Linked DNA regions of Homo sapiens: region 2 is linked to region 1. The links come from fine-mapping of genetic effects on gene expression. Tissue or cell type: whole blood. Region 1 holds a variant in brackets; the other region holds the start of a gene. All regions are shown on one strand. Distances are from middle to middle.

What was found.
Region 2: it holds the start of ABCC4, and the variant in region 1 is fine-mapped to the expression of ABCC4 in whole blood (TOPMed, PIP above 0.99).

Annotation. Positions count from the first base shown.
Region 1 is chr13:95,239,768-95,248,092 of GRCh38, reverse strand. It overlaps ABCC4 (ATP binding cassette subfamily C member 4 (PEL blood group)), which reads left to right. Exons shown (of 31, transcript NM_005845.5): 2 at 340-450; 3 at 998-1,118. Among named protein-coding and RNA genes, the nearest start is that of SNORD13G, 34 kb to the right of the region's middle. RefSeq lists an enhancer at 3,041-3,120. The variant G/A (reference allele first, on the strand shown) is at 3,531.
Region 2 is chr13:95,296,922-95,305,246 of GRCh38, reverse strand. It overlaps ABCC4 (ATP binding cassette subfamily C member 4 (PEL blood group)), which reads left to right and starts at 3,796. Exons shown (of 31, transcript NM_005845.5): 1 at 3,796-4,006. The coding sequence starts at 3,933. It overlaps LOC102724149 (a long non-coding RNA gene), which reads right to left and starts at 4,296. Exons shown (of 3, transcript XR_429273.4): 1 at 3,984-4,296; 2 at 2,921-3,301. RefSeq lists silencers at 3,291-3,350, 3,531-3,590, 3,621-4,260 and enhancers at 3,077-3,851, 5,454-5,513.

The sequences.
Region 1 (8,325 bases):
CTGCCCCAGCCTTTGAATCAGCTATTTCTTCAGGAAGCTCTGGTTCCTTTTAGATAATAATGGTTTTGGAAACCAAGATCTGGGCACCAGCATGCTCTCAGCTACTGGTGTGTCATTGCTTCTGGGGCCTGTCTGTGGATAGAGCTAGGGACTGTGTGTGTGTGTGTGTGTGTGCACATGTTAACTTTTCTCTCTCTAGCTCTATATATTCATATCTGTCTGTCTATATATAGCTGTATGTATTTTAAAGGTAAGTTTAAGCAAAACCCATGGAGGTAGGAGTCTACTTAAACACGGATGTGTAATTCTGGATATATGTCTCTTTTCTCTTGTTAACAGGTGGCTCAATCCCTTGTTTAAAATTGGCCATAAACGGAGATTAGAGGAAGATGATATGTATTCAGTGCTGCCAGAAGACCGCTCACAGCACCTTGGAGAGGAGTTGCAAGGGTAAGTCGGAGGCAGTAAAGTGGGCATTAAGGAAGCGTGGGTGTCTGTGTGTGGGGAGTGGGTTTTGCCTTCCTGGGTCCTGTCTGGAGCCTCCGTTTACCCTTAAGGTGAATATGTGTCACCTTCCTCAGGCTGCCCCTAGGCTCAGCCTACCATGGTGGCCTGGGGGAAACTCCTGTTGCCTGTGCCTCCGTAGAGGTCAGGGGAGCCAGCACCAAAGGCCCGAGATGCCTGAGGTCTGTCCCTCTAGGTGGAAGTGTTGTGGTTGGAGGAGGTTGTCTGGCTTATCTGTGCTACTGATGGGGCTTCAATCCAGTAAAGCTTGGCAGTAACTTGTTTCCCCAGACTTCCCCTCAAGGCCTGTTTTTCTGATGCTCCAGATTCTGTACCACACATAACCTTCAGGAGCCCTGGGAGCAATTAGTAGCATTTATGAAATCGTCACAAAATGCCCTGTCTTAAATGCATACCTGTCACTCTGCCATCTCCCCTGTTTTATATTGTGGCAGGGTTCACTCTTATTTACGAAGCTTTTTCCTCATTGTAGGTTCTGGGATAAAGAAGTTTTAAGAGCTGAGAATGACGCACAGAAGCCTTCTTTAACAAGAGCAATCATAAAGTGTTACTGGAAATCTTATTTAGTTTTGGGAATTTTTACGTTAATTGAGGTAAAAGCTTTTACATACCATGAATTGTTTTTCAGGACACATAGAGTAAATGTGCTCGCCATTGACTGGTGCTGTAATGGATGGGGGAACAGAAGGGAGAAGTGGCCAGATGGGGTTTGAAGGTATTTTAAGGTCTAAGGATTAAACATGTCTAGGAAGTATTAGGTAGTTAGTTCAGTGAGCGTATTTATCCAGGTGAATACTTAAGTGACTGAAGTTCAAGGTCATTATTGTTTTTCTTGTAACCAATTAAAATGCAGTGTCATGGAAGAAGAGTATTTTATTCTATGGTAGGACAATGTTGGTGCTCGGTAAATGTTTTAAATGCTAAGAGTCACTCCTGGTCAAAAGAGGATCCTACAGCCTTGAGGAGTGCGTGCCCTGTGGTTTAGAGGAAGTGATTTTGGATCGGAGCCCAGAATAATGTAAGACATTTTACAGGTGCTCAACAAATAATTGTTCACCAAGCCAAATCTGATAATTGCTCTTCTGGAGAGGTATTGTCACCTCTCCCCTCTCGGGGAAACAGAGCTGAGGGCCTTGCACCTGGGCTGGCGGTGGTGCCCCAGAGGCTGGAGCTGGCTGAAGCACCCAAGAGCTACCCCCTCCCAGTGGGCCCAGGTGCTGGGAGCCAAAATCCCCTCTGGGAAGAAGGTCCGAGGACTGTGCACCCAAGGGGATTCATCACACCCATCCGGTGTGTCTTCCTTGTTGTCGGAGTGGATTGCTGGTTGGAAGGTAGAGTCTTGGTGCCTGGCCCTGCAGAGAATGTATAAATGGACATTCCATGAAAAATCAAAGACAGCCAGAAGGGCAATAACCTCTGTTACCCCGAAGGGCCTCTCTTGAGATCTGCAGAAAGACAGTGTTCTGCCTAGGCACACTGCCAGGTAGCTTGTCCGTTCTGGTCTTTGGCCTGCTAGAGGAGATGCAGAGGGTCCTGCTGGGTGACTTGTGTCCTCTGTGCTACCTTAGGGATGTCAGTGGTCCATTAAAGTTAGAGGGGTGGATGTTGCTGTTGTTACAAAAGGGTGGCTTTAAATGCAGGATGGGGAGTTGTCACGGTGCATTTTGTTGGGAATGAGGTGGGTGGGGGGAGGGGGTTGGTTTGTATGTGGGGGGGTTTGCTCCTGTTGAACATGCTTTTTGTTGTGGAGGGCACGGTGGGCAGTGGGAGGCAGGTAGGTGAGCTCTGCCCTACACCAGAGGAATCTGTCAGACAACAGGGGACTGGACGGTCCTGGGAGATGAATGGTCTCATTGGTGACAAAGGTGTTTTGGCCAGGGTGCCAGATGGTGAATGCCACCTTTGAGAGGGTACCCGCCCTGCCTGCATGCTACTGTGGCTTTGTGGCAGATGGGGTGGACATGCAGAATAACCGGTGGAACTGACTTGAGGGTGGAAGAGGGCTAGGAGCCCCTCAGGTTCTCCCAGCCCCTCTTCAACCTGTGCTGGGGTGTCCCAGCGATAGTGTTTCCACATGGCCCCGATCAGTTTCAGTTGGAAAGAAATAGAATGACAAGTCGGTGTCAATGTGGCCAGTGTGTGCAGGATTTCCTGGCCCAGTTTGGCTGTGCAACCTCAGAGAAGTTGTCTGGTAGCCATGGAGCCTCTGTAAGTGTCTAAGGCTCATGCCAGGTGTCTGGTTAGGTGTAGTGGGAATCAATGGCCTCACATAGGTTTCGAGGCATGCCTCCCTCAGCTACTTCCATTTCTCTAGTTTCCCTTTGTCACCAGCTGCTTATGAAATTGAAAACAGGATGATTTAGAAGGAACTGAGCTTGTCATGCTCAGGGCTGTCCATGCTGTCATGGGCTGCCAGCCACTTGGGGTGGGGTCTCTAACCCACAGATGGTGACTGGACTACAGTGAGATTTGGGTAAGCTTTTGGGAGAAGCAGGCACAGAAGTAGAGGCTGTAGAAGCGTGAATTTCTCCTGAGACTTGAGGACAGGCCCCACTCTGGTGCAAGGAGCATGGTAATCTTTACTGCTGGTGGGCATGTGGGAAGGGGCCCGGATCGAGGGGAGCTTTAATATGGGTACAGTTGGTGGAGAGCTGGTCTTTTAGCGGGGTGGTTATTGGGCAGTCATGGCAGAAAAGTAGGGAGTGGAGGACCTGGCAAATATGGGGGCTCATGCTCAGTACTGCTTAGCAGCAGCAGTGCTAGTAGAAGCAGCAGCAGGATTAGTAGTGGTTGGTACTCAGTAGTAGTAGTAGCAGCAGCAGTGATAGTAGCAATAGTTGTAATAATACTGACAGTGAGTACTTGAAAAATACTATGTACCAGGAACTGCTATGATTTCTTTCTTTCTTTCTTTCTTTCTTTCTTTCTTTCTTTCTTTCTTTCTTTCTTTCTTTCTTTCTTTCTTTCTTTCATGTTATTTTATTTTATTTTGTTTTTTGAGATAG[G/A]GTCTCACTCTGTTGCCAGGCTGGAGTGCAGTGGTGCTATCTTGGCTCACTGCAGCTTTGGCCTACTGGGCTCAAGCAGTCCTCCCAAGTAGCTAGGACCACAGGTGCACGCCACCATGCCTGGTTAATTTTTGTATTTTTGTTTCACTATGTTGCCCAGGTTGGTCTTGAACTCCTGGGCTCAAATGATCCTCCCACCTTGGCCTCTCAAAGTGCTGGGATTATAGGCAGGAATCACCATGCTCAGTCAGAAGGCATTCTTTTAACCCTACTTTTGGGAAGAGGACACTGGGTGCCATGTAGTTATATAATGTGCCTAGGGCCACACAAAGTGTAAATGACAGAGCCCAGATTCAGTCTCAGGAGCGCTGACTTAGGGACCTAACCATCTCCAGACTGTCGTAAAGGTGTCTTGAGAACTCTGTCTTCAGAGTATCCAGCACATGCTTCTTGAACTTGGCCTAGGGATAAGTCAGATGCTAAGAGCTCCCTGGAACAGTGGGGCATGGCTGTGGGAAATCAGATTGGGGATTATAAATTACCCTAGGTTCCTAGGTGTCCTGGTGCCGGAAAGTCAGGTGACATGCTAGAGAGTGGCTGGGGTGCTGGGCAGGTCAGAGCACCAAGGTACATTCAGGTTGACCACGAACTCTTTTTTTTTTTTTATGTTTTCGTCTGAGGTGGGGTCTCACTCTGTCACTCAGGCTGGAGTGCAGTGGTGTGATCTCAGCTCACTGCAACCTCCATCTCCCTGGGCTCAAGCAATCCTCCCACCTCAGCCTCCTGAGTAGCTGTGACTATAGGCATGCACCATGCCTGGCTTATTTTTTGTATTTTTAGTAGAGATGAGGTTTTACCATGTTGTCCGGGCCGGTCTAGAACTCCTGAGCTCAAGCCATCGGCCCACCTCGCCCTCCCAAATTAATGGGATTACAGGTGTGAGCCACTGTGCCTGGCTGACCAAGAACCCTTTAGAAACCTGTCTCCCACTGAGTACCATCCTCCACATGTGTGAGGCGTGCAGCCCTGCTGACCCAAGTTCATCAACATCCACGCTGTTAAGACACCATTCCCAGTTGTCTCCTCCTCGGATGGACGAGGGGGAAGCTTGTGGTCTTGCATGGTCACGACATTGACTGATGGTCTGGGCGGATGTCAAGTTCCCTGTTTTTACTTATCAAAGGCTCTGGGTTTCTTGCATAGCAATGATATCTCTGCAGTTTCAGAAGCCTTTGGCCTGAATCGTGAAGTGGGTGTGCAGTTTGCTTGGCAAGGATGAAGACCCCAGATGAGTCACTAGTATGGGGACAGCTCTTCTGTCCTGGTATCTGAACCCTCCCACTAGCAAGGTGGGCCCCAGGTATTAGGGCGGCAGGCTAAGGTGTTAAGATGGACCCACACAGTGCTGGCGGCAGGCACCTCTCATATAAAGTGGAGCCTGGGCTTTTCACAAGAGAGCACTTGTTGGTCCTGTGTTTACACCAATATCTTGGTGGTTTATGGTATAAAATTAGACAGTAGTCAGTTATTCTTTAGAGGATCATGGTGACTAGTGGATGATGCTCATTTTAACCTTGTGTCTTTAACATAATAACTGGTAGAACTTTTAGTTCCGATGCAGTGAAGTTCAGGGAGCTAAAGCTCTTCCCAGTTCAACTCAAAGTAATCCTTGGATTTTTTTTTTTCTTTTCCTTCTAGCAGTGAAAACAGCCTGAATTCTAGTATAAATACTATTGTTTTCCCAGCCTTGCCTATTGACACTTGGCTGTTTTGGAGAAGTTGGAGAGAAATAATTTCTTAAGATGAAGGTAGTGAGTGTAACATCTCAAAAGCATTTCAGGTGTTGTTTTGGGTTTTCAATCATTAAAGCTATTTATTGGCCAGGCATGGTGGCTTATGCCTATAATCCCAGCATTTTGGGATGCCAAGGGATGATTATTTGAGCCCAGGAGTTCCCAGCTTTAGTGAGCTATGATTGCACCACTGCACTCCAGCATGGGTGACAGAGCAAGACCTTGTCTCTAAAAAAGAAAATTAGGCCAGGCGCAGTGGCTCACGCCTGTAATCCCAGCACTTTGGGAGGCCAAGGCGGGCGGATCACAAGGTCAGGAGTTCGAGACCAGCCTGACCAACCTGGTGAAACCCCATCTCTATTAAAAATATAAAAATTAGCTGGGCATGGTGGTGGGCGCCTGTAATCCCAGCTACTCAGGAGGCTGAGGCAGGAGAATTGCTTGAACCTGGGAGGTGGAGGTTGCAGTGAGCTGAGATCACGCCACTGCACTTCAGCCTGGGTGACAGAGCAAGACTCTGTCTCAAAAAAAAAAATTATGGAGTTAGAACAAATGTTAGTTTCACAGTTGATTTAATGAAGATGCTTTTCATTTTTTGGTCTTGTGTCTGTGCTGCTTGTGGATCTTCGTATTTTGGATAGTGGAAGCTCTAAACTTAACCTAGCATTTAGTAAAAAGCTTCTGTGATGACTTTCAGGCCTTTTTTAACCCACTTATGCCGGAGGTTGCCAATTTTTTTTGTGTGTGAAAGATCAGACCTTGGCGATGAGGTTGAACAGTAGAATATAAACTCCCACAAGCTTAGTGTTCCAATAATGGAATGCTAGGCACAGATGGGTTAATTCCTCTGGTTACAGAACAACTGTGCAGTGGATCCATAACTCCCTAGCCATATACTCTTAACTAAGCTGAAGGCAAGCAGGGCCTTCCCTGGGTACTAATGATGGCACCAGCAGGAAGAGAGATGGTGACACCAGTTTGCGGGGAGTCTTTGAGGTTGGAATTTCAAAGTAATGCAAGTGAGATTAGGAACGATTGTCAGAGTTGAGGAATGATTATAATGCCCAGAGAAACAAGTACTAGTCTAATGGTGAACATGGTGCTCTTCCAGGCAAATGCTAATTAGAACAGAACAGCCCGCAAATTTCCAGCACATCTGTCCCCTATGTGCACCTCCATGGAGACTGTGATGGGGACTGGAGACTGAGCAAGTATCCACCCACTTAGAGCCTGCAGGGGGGGCAGGAGGAAGGAGGAGCTTGGGAATCCTCTGTGTGGGCCAAACCAGGACACAGGCAGCTTCTCCATTTGTATCTATGCTGCTTGTTGGTCTTTGTATTTTAGATAGTTGAAGATTATCTAAATGTTTCTTTGAGAAATGAGATGTGTATTTTTTTTTTTTTCCTGAGATGGAGTCTCATTCTGTCACCAGGCTGGAGTGCAGTGGCACGATCTCGGCTCACTGCAACCTCTGCCTCCCAGGTTCAAGTGATTCTGCTGCCTCTGCCTCCTGAGTAGCTGGGACTACAGGTGTGCGCCACCACACCCAGCTAATTTTTTTGTATTTTTAGTAGAGATGGGGTTTCACCATGTTGGCCAGGATGGTCTCGATCTCTTGACCTTGTGATTCACCCACCTTGGCCTCCCAGAGTGCTGGGATTACAGGCATGAGCCATCGTGCCTGGCCAATGAGGTGGTTTTTAATAACTTCAATTCTACATTTCTTGTTCAGCTGCCTGACATGAGGGCCAAGGCCAAGCCTCATGTGGTATTTTCTTTCTTTGGTTGTTTTGTTTTTTGAGCCAGAGTCTCACTCTGTCACCCAGGTTAGAGTGCAGTGGTGTGATCTTGGCTCACTGCAACCTCTGTCTCCTTGGTTCAAGCCATTCTTCTGCCTCAGCCTCCCGAATAGCTGGGATTGCAAGCTTATACCACCACATGTAGCTAATTTTTGTATTTTTAGTAGAGACAGGGTTTTACCATGTTGGCCAGCCTGGTCTCGAACTCCTGACCTCAAGTGATTCGTCTGCCTCGGCCTCCCAAAATGCTGGGATCTTTCTTAGGTTTTTAAAGATCATTTCAAAAATATAAAATATAATAGAATACTAAGCCTCTCTCTACCCCTAAGCCAGCTTCAGTAACTATCAACTCATGACCACTCTTGATTTTTATGAAGCCCTGCTCACTGCCCCCTCTGAAGATGTGTGTGTGTGTGTGTGTGTGTGTGTGTGTGTGTGTTTTGAGATGGAGTTTTGCTCTTGCCCAGGCTGGAGTGCAGTGGCATGATCTTGGTTCACTGCAACCTCTGCCTCCTGGGTTCAAGTGATTCTCCTGCCTCAGCCTCCTGAGTAGCTGGGATTATAGGCATCTGCCACCATGCCCGGGTAATTTTGTATTTTTAGTAGAGATGGGGTTTCACCATGTTGGCCAGGCTGGTCTCGAACTCCTGACCTCAAGTGGTCCACCTGCCTCAGCCTCTCAAAGTGCTGAGATTACATCGCGCCCAGCCGCGTGTGTACTTTCTAATTGAAGAAACCGTGTTGTTTGCCCTGCACGGATTCCCAGGGTCTAGATTGGGCTCATTGCATATCCCTCCTCCCCTCTTGTGACCCTCTACATCCTTGCATGCTGTATCATTTAACATGTCCATCTGGTACCAGAAGTTAGTAGTTAGATCTAGAAGCTTGATGTGATTCAGGTTTTATTTTCCCCCCTCCTCCCTTTGGCAAGAGTACTTTGTAGGTGAGGGTGTGTACCACCTGCCACTTCGAGATACCTCGCTTAGGTCTGGTTATGTGTGTGTGGTATTTGGAGCCATTCATGATCATTGCTTAAGATGCATTAATTTGTTAGGAGTTTGCAAAGTGGTGATATTCCAGTTCCTCATTTATTAGCTGAAATATTTGCATAAAGAGAAACTTTGCCATTATCAACTCTTTGATACTCTGAGTTACAGTACACCTATAGGAAAGGCAGGAGAAATGATTAATTTTGTTATTTTT
Region 2 (8,325 bases), 57 kb before region 1:
TTTTTTTTTTTTTGAGACAGAATCTCGCTCTGTCGCCAGGCTGGAGTGCAGTGGCATGATCTCGGCTCACTGCAACCTCTGACTCCCTGGTTCAAGCAATTCTCCTGCCTCAGTCTCGCAGGTAGCTGGGATTACAGGCACATGCCACCACGCCCAGATCATTTTTGTATTTTTAGTAGAGAGGGGGTTTTGCCATGTTGGCGAGGCTGGTTTCTAACTCCTGACCTCAGGTGATCTGTCTGCCTCCGCCTCCCAAAGTGCTGGGATAACAGGCATGAGCCCCTGCGCCCGCCCCGACCCCATTTTAGACCTGAGAAAAATAAGGGTCAGAAAGGTTAGGTAACAAGTGAAAAGATATAAAGCCCTGGCCCCCTGGTTCCATATCCACTCCTCTCTGCAGTCAGACACTGCTCTATAGTATCTCTTCCAAACACCACATTGTTAATGTTCAGAAAAGAATGTTAAGAAGTTCCAAAAGATCTTAATTAAGAAAAAAATAAGCCTCTGCAGGAGCCGAAGGGACTGAGCACTTTGGCAATTTGGAGATGGCTAATGACGGTTCTTACACAGTTGTTGGGGGTAGGGAGAGCATTCTGGGACAGTCTGACAGAGGAAGTCACTAGACTTCTAACTTTAGTAAACAGGTTCTCTAGCTTGGAAGTAGAACTGGTAGCTCAGCATTTACTGGGCTAGAAAACTTAGGAAGTTTCAAAGGGCACTGTAAATCAGGTGAAGGCTGACTATTTTGGTTTATAGCTTATATTATCTGAGAAAGAGCTATCAGAAAGGTAGGTTATTGAATGATCATAGCTTTCCCACAGTAGTCAACTTAAAATATTGTGTTCCTTTTTGTGACAGAAATTCTGAAACATGAGCTGGTATGCTGGCGAGTGCCTACAATCCCAGGTACTTGGAGGGGTTGAGGCAGGAGGATCCCTTGGGCCCAGCAGCTTGAGTCCAGCCTGGGCAACATACTGAGAGCCCATCTCCAAAAAGAAAACCATTCTCAAACATGCATGAAATGTAAGAAAATAAACCCCTATGACACATCATTTGGCTTCAAAAATTATCAATATTTTGCCATTCTTATGTGCTTGACTTTTTTTTTTTTTGAGACAGAGTCTCACTCTTTAGCCCAGGCTGGAGGGCAGTGGTGTGATCATAGCCTACTGTAGCCTCCAACTCCTGGGCTTAAGCAATCCTCCCACCTGAACCTCCAGCTGGGACTACAGACTCACGCCACCACACCCATCATATTTTTACATTTTTAGTAGAGATGAGGTCTCCCTTTGTTGCCCAGGCTGGTCTAGAACTCCTGGGCTCAAGCAATCCTCCCACCTGAGCCTCCAGGTTACATGGGACTACAGACTTACTCCACCATGCCCATCTAATTTTCACATTTTTAGTGGAGATGAGGTCTCCCTATGTTGCCCAGGCTGGTCTAGAACTCCCGGGCTAAAGCAATCCTCCTGTCTCCACCTCTCAAAGTGCTGGGATTATGGGCTTGTACAGCCTGGAGTGCAGTGGCACCTTCTTTTTTTTTTTGAGACGGAGTTTCACTCTTGTTGCCAAGCTGGAGTGCAGTGGGATGATCTCGGCTCACTGCAACCTCCGCCTCCTGGGTTCAAGTGATTCTTCTGCCTGAGGTTCCTGAGTAGCTGGGATTACAGGCATCCACCACCACACCCAGATAATTTTTTGTATTTTTAGTAGAGATGGGGTTTCACCATGTTGGCCAGGCTGGTCTCGAACTCCTGACGTCAGGTGATTCACCTGCCTCAGCCTCCCAGAGTGCTAGGATTATAGGCGTGAGCCATTGTGCCCAGCCCAGTGGGCACCTTCTTAACTCCTTGTAGCCTGGAACTCCTGGGCTAAAGCCATCCTCCTGTCTCAGCCTCTCGAGTAGCTGGGACTACAAGGGTACGCCACCACACCTGGGCTAATTTTTAAAACTTTTGGTAGAGACAGAGCCTCACTATGCTGGCTAGCCTGTGCTTGACTTTTAAATATGTGTTTGTGTAAGGCTTTCTTTAAAAGCTATTAACTATACTATTTTAGCAAATATACATGGGAAATTATCAAGGAACAATAAAATGATCTTGTTCCAAGCACCATGAACTTGGAGCCTTTCATTTTTTTTCATTCAGGGTGGATATGAAGAGCAGCTGCTGACCTTGTTAAGGTAGCCACAGAAATGACTGAAGACTTAGAGGTGGGAGTACACAAGCTTGGAACAAGATTTTGTTCATTCATTCCTACAGCCATTCAACCAGCATATTCTGGGCACTTCTCATGCACACTGGCCATCCACCAGGGAGACAGGCCATGCTTAGACATAGGCTTATTGCAAATCATGTTTTATCCTTTCTTGGCTCTAAGACTGGACAAGTTCTGCCTTTCAGCTTCACCTTCCTCATCTATAAAGTAAGGATAACCTTGAATGGGGCACTGATAGAATTAAAAGTGAGATAATTGGTCGGGCGTGGTGGTACATGCCTGTAATCCTAGCACTTTGGGAGGCCACGGTGGGAGGATCACTTGAGCCTAGGAGTTTGAGACCAGCCTGGGCAACAAAGTGAGAAATTATCAAGGAACAATAAAATGATCTTATTACAAAGAAAACCAAATTCTCAAACATGCATGAAATATGAAGAAAATAAACCTCCATGACAATCATTTGGCTTCAAAAATTATCAGTATTTGAACTTGGAGCCTTTGATTTTGATTTTTGCATCTCTACAAAAATTACAAAATATGAGCCGGGTGTGGTGGCGGGTGCCTGTAGTCCTAGCTACTTAAACTGAGTTGGGAGGATTGCTTGAGCCCTGGGAGGTCGAGGGTGCAATGAGCCATAATCGTGACACTGTGTGTGAGACTGCCACACACACACACACACACACACACTAGTGAGGCTACGCACTCAGAAATGCACATGAACATCACTGGTATTCTGGAACCCACGTGTCGTTTGCCACTGTTATCTGTTAGGCTTTAGGGCTTGACGACAGAAATCATCAGGCAGTCTCTCTTTCCTCTTATATTCCTTTCCCAATCTAAGGGGGCAGCAAAAAGCTCAGAGGTCCACCGTAGCATGCAACATGTGAGATGCCTAAAGCCCGCCCCCATCGACGACAGCATTCATCCATCTCCCGAATTCATCTGGGTCATACTCTCGAGTTACCCGGCTTTCTTGAGGTCTTGCAGCTCTACAAGGATAATCTGTGGCTAAACTTTGCTGTCGTCCAAGGTCAAATGTTTGGCTCACAGGTTGAAGAGCCTCCCATGGCACCGTCGTTTGGTCCTGAGAAGGGAAAGGCGCCCAGGGGGCGGGCTGCTAGAGCACGAGGCAGCTGTCTCCCAGTCTTCCCAAACCCGTAGCCGAGGGGGCGTTTCTGCGGCGCAGGGGCGGGCACAGCCGACGCCTCCCTGCTCCACCTTCTGTGTCGGCGCCTAGACTCGGATAGTGAATTTCGGAAAGTTTCACTCGGGTTCGTGCACGTGGGCACCTCCGGACCCGGCCTCCTTGCCGCGCGCTCTGCTACCCTCTCCATCCAGCGGCGCAGGCGGCCCTCGCCTCACCCCTGGGCGTAGCTCTGGGCTCCCTTTGGCGTCGCCAGCTTCGCCTCCTCCCGCCGCGTCTCCTCCCGCCGCGTCACCCGTCGGTCCCGGCCGCGCTCGCACGCGGTGCGCAGCTCCCGGGCTCCAGGCGGCGGCGCGTAGCGGGCGCCCCCGAGGCGGCGGGCCTGAGAGGCGGGGACGGGGCGTGCCGCCGGCGCCCGGCTCCCGGAAGCGGCTGCTTCACAGGCTCCAGCCGAGCGGACAGGCGTGGCGGCCGGAGCCCCAGCATCCCTGCTTGAGGTCCAGGAGCGGAGCCCGCGGCCACCGCCGCCTGATCAGCGCGACCCCGGCCCGCGCCCGCCCCGCCCGGCAAGATGCTGCCCGTGTACCAGGAGGTGAAGCCCAACCCGCTGCAGGACGCGAACCTCTGCTCACGCGTGTTCTTCTGGTGAGTGTCCCCGCCCGAAACAGGTCACCCTGCAGCCGCTGGCGCCGCGGACGCACTCTCCCGGGGCCGCGCCCGATGCTGCCCAAGCCCTCTGCGGCTGGGGGCGAGGGGAGCGCTTTCCTACGCCACGCGGTCCACGCCGGGGCTTTCTGCTGCGGGTGGCGCCGCCCCCACGCCGGCCGCGTGGTCCCTGCCTGCGCCCCGGGGCGCGGCGCAGGGGGACGCGGGGACGCGGGGCCAGTGGCTTTGCTACTGGAGGCCCTGCGGGCCCTTAGGGCTCGGGGGAGGAGGAGCAGGAGGTGGGGAGGCGGGGAACCCAGGCTGCCGAAAGGGGGAGTCTCTTGCCCAGCGGGAGAAGCGACTGCACCCCTTACACGCCCACCCTTCGCTGGCTCCCGCCTCCTGCTCTGGGACTCGCAGTCTCCTGAACTCAAACGCACCTTTTCCTTTCTTTTTAAGTAAGCAGCTTACGAACAGTTTCCTTTATCTGATCTCAGCCAAAGCCTAATTAGTGTCCTGGACCTATGCCATCTCCCAGTAGTGTCCCCACCCCTTCCGATATTCCTTACGAGACAGCTCGATCCAACTCCACGTCCCGTTGTACCTCTCTGTGTCCCGGTGTCTCTGTATCTTTTGTCTCAGTGACCAGGGCTCTCCTTTTGCCTCTTTGTGGGAATCTCACTGTGTGTCCATGTGGGTCGTGGTACCTAGTTATGGCAAGTTTCATGTGGGTAAAATAACACTATTATTATTTTTCATTTATGAATGGGGACCCTGTTCTTGAACAAGATTTTCCAGGATTTGCTTTTAACTGGGACATGCACCGCCACGACTGGAGTCTGTCTTTGACCAGCTTCTTTCCCCTGTTTCCAATACTTTCACTTCCACGTAGGAGGACAGCTCGGAGGTGGGGTCCCTGGAATCGCTAACCTTCAGAGAGGTGATCCATGGTCTTGATGCAGGTGGTTCCTACCAGGAGTTCTACCTTCTTAAAACCACCCCAGGGCTCCTGAGCTGGGAGGGCCCACAGCCCTACCCATTTTGTGCAAGGAAACAAACGGAGAAAGACTCGGGTGACAGTAGTAACTAAAATTTCCATCTTGGCCTGGCGCGGTGGCTCACGCCTGTATCCCTGCACTTTGGGAGGCAGAGGTGGGTGGATCACGAGGTCAGGAGTTCGAGACCAGCCTGGCTGACATGGTGAAACCCCGTCTCTACTAAAAATACAAAAATTAGCCGGGTGTGGTGGAGCACGCCTGTAATCCCAGCTACTCAGGAGGCTGAGGCAGGGGAATTGCTTGAACCCAGTAGGCGGAGGTTGCAGTGAGCTGAGATCGCCCCACTGTACTCCAGCCTGGGTGACAGAGTGAGACTCCGTCTTGGGGGAGTGGCGGGTGTGTGTGGGGGAATTCCGTCTGCTAACTACATAAGCCTGAACCTTTGAAGGGCTTCAATCTCACTTGGATGATTATTAGATCTTCTGTTTCTTGACCTCTGCCGCCTCATCTTTCCCACATGTTGATATTGCCTTTTATTATGGGACAACCTAGGGTGGGGGTCTCCAATTTTTTGGGTTCCCTGGGCCACACTGGAAGAATTGTCTTGGGCCATACATAAAATACACTAACACTAATCATACACTAACACTAATGATAGCTGATGAGCTAAAAAAAAATCGCAAAAAAAAATCTGATGTTTTAAGAAAGCTTACGAATTTGGCAGCCCATGGGCCTCAGGTTGGACAAGCTTGACCTAGGGGATTCCAAGAGGATGAGTCGCTTACTCTTGTTTCGATTGTGGTACACTCAGTGGGTGTAGGAACTTCTCTTGGTTGTTTGGCGGCCTTTCTCTTAAGGAGAGGGGCACGTGGAGGAGGAAGGAATATGGGTGTGGTTTCTGCAAATAATAACTTGAGGTAGACAAATGGTCTCCTCAACTTCAGGCAGGGCAAGGAACTTTTTTTTTTTTTTTTTGAGACAGGATCTTGCTTTGTGCAAGCTGTGACCCAGGCTGGAGGGCAGTGACACATTCATAGCTTGCTGCAGCCTCCAACTCCTGGGCCGAAGCAATCCTCCTGCCTCAGCCTCCCGAGTAGCTGGGGCTCCAGGTGTGTGTCACCATGCCCGGATAATAAAAAAAAATTTTTTTTGTAGAGATAGGGCTCTCTATGTTGTTGCTCAGGCTGGTCTTGAACTCCTGGGCTCAAGTGTTCCTCCCGCTTCGGCCACCCAAAGTCTGGGATTACAGATGTGACTCCTGCCTCCTTATATTTTTCTCCCCCTGCATTTTCAAAATGTAGGTGGCAGGGAAATAGGAAGTGATGCGCTCCCATTGATGACTTGAGTAGGTGTTCATTTCCGGTTTCCCTGATGGAAGGGAAGGAGCTAGTAGACCTCTGTTTTACTCCGAGGACACTTAAGCTGAGAGTGGTTAAGTTGCCTGGACTCACACAACAATCAAGTGTCAGAGCAGGCTCCAAAGCTGGGCAGACTGGCTCCCCAGCCTCTTTGGAGCTGCTGTACTGAGCTGCTTCCAGTTCAGGTGCTGTCGGAAATGCATGGAGAAGGCGCTCCCTGTTCTGGAAGGCTAGAGTTTCTCAAGGGAAATTCTTAAAGTACCTGCAGTTGGAGATGATGCATGTGTAACAACTATTAGTGTGCTTTAGGGCAGCTGTTCTCAAAGCATAGCACTCAGAGCAGCAGCATCGGCATCACTTGGGAGATTCTAAGAGATGCAGATTCTCCAGCATCCACTCTGGACTGATTCAGTAAAACTGGAAACACTGGGTGTGTGGGTGGGGGTGGTGAGGTTTCAAGTGCTCCAGGTGATCCTGATTTGAGGCGCTTACTGCTTCCAGCTACTCCTTTCATTGGAGTATTATTACAGTATTATGCTTTTCTTTATTTTTAATTGTTAAAATTTCTTTATTTCTTTTTTTTGAGACGGAGTCTTTCTCTGTTGCTCAGCTCTGTCACCCAGGCTGGAGTGCAGTGGTGCAATCTCTGCTCACTGCAACCTCTGCCTCCTGGGTTCAAGTGATTCTCCTGCCCCAGTCTCTCAAGTAGCTGGGACTATAGGCGTGCACCCTCACACCCAGCTAATTTTTGTATTTTTGGTAGAGATGGGGTTGCACCATGTTGGCCAGGCTGGTCTTGAACTCCTGACCTCAGGTGATCTGCCCGCCTTGGCCTCCAAAAATGCTGGGATTACAGGCATGAGCCACTGTGCCTGGGCCAGTTTGAGGGATTTTAAAGTCTGAGGCCTCATAGTGAGAAAATAATAATAATCATCATCTGAGGAATGCGGAGTCCTTTTAAATTATCAGGCCCAGAGAGACATTAAAATGACACAGCAGTCACCTCGTAGTTCCCACCCCCTTGAGCTATTTACTTATCACTCGAAAGTACTTCATATTGCCACATAGCTACAGATTAACCTAACAGTGCCCCAAGGACACTGTAATCCACAGCTCAGGAGTTTGAGCTCCAGCGATCTGCCTGCCTCGGCCTCCCAAAGTGCTGGGATTACAGGCATGAACCACCACACTGGGTCTGTAGTAAATTCTTGAGTTATATTTTGTGCCTTAGCCTCCTGCTTTTAGGTCAGTATTTGTGTACCCTTCCCACTGCCAGTGGAAAGCTGAAATGAGCCCATCCAGGAAGTGGCTGCCTGGAGACAGGGCCCACCTTGTAGGGAAAAACTGCTTTTTCACCTTCTTGTTGAGTGTTTGCTTTTCTTCTCAAATATCATCTGCTTTCTGAACTTGTGAACTGGCAGCTGCCTACCTAAATGATGCCAATAACTGGCTTACTGACTTTTATTCAAAGTATTTTCCCGGGATTTTGGTGTATTTATAGCATAATTTGGACTTGGAGTCTAAAAGGAGTCATGCATTATGGCTGTTGGCAATTGTGGATTTTTAAAGGTAGTATTTTCACCTATTTCTTTCTTTTTTCTTTCTTTTTTTTTTTTATGAGACAGAGTTTTAGCTCTGTTGCCAGGCTGGCCGTGGTGTGATCTCGGCTCACTGCAACCTCCGCCTCCAGGGTTCAAGTGATTCTCCTGCTTCAGACTCCCAAGTAGCTGGGATTACAAGTGCCCACCACCATACCTGGCTAATTTTCATGTTTTTAGTAGAGACAGGGTTTCACCATGTTGGCCAGGCTGGTCTCGAACTCCTGACCTCAGGTGATACACCTGCATCGGCCTCCCAAAGTGCTGGGATTACAGGTGTGAGCCACTGTGCCTGGCCTTCCATTTTCTTTTAGCTATTGTTTCATTTCTAACAATAAAGGCAGCTAGAATTTCTTTTGGTATTT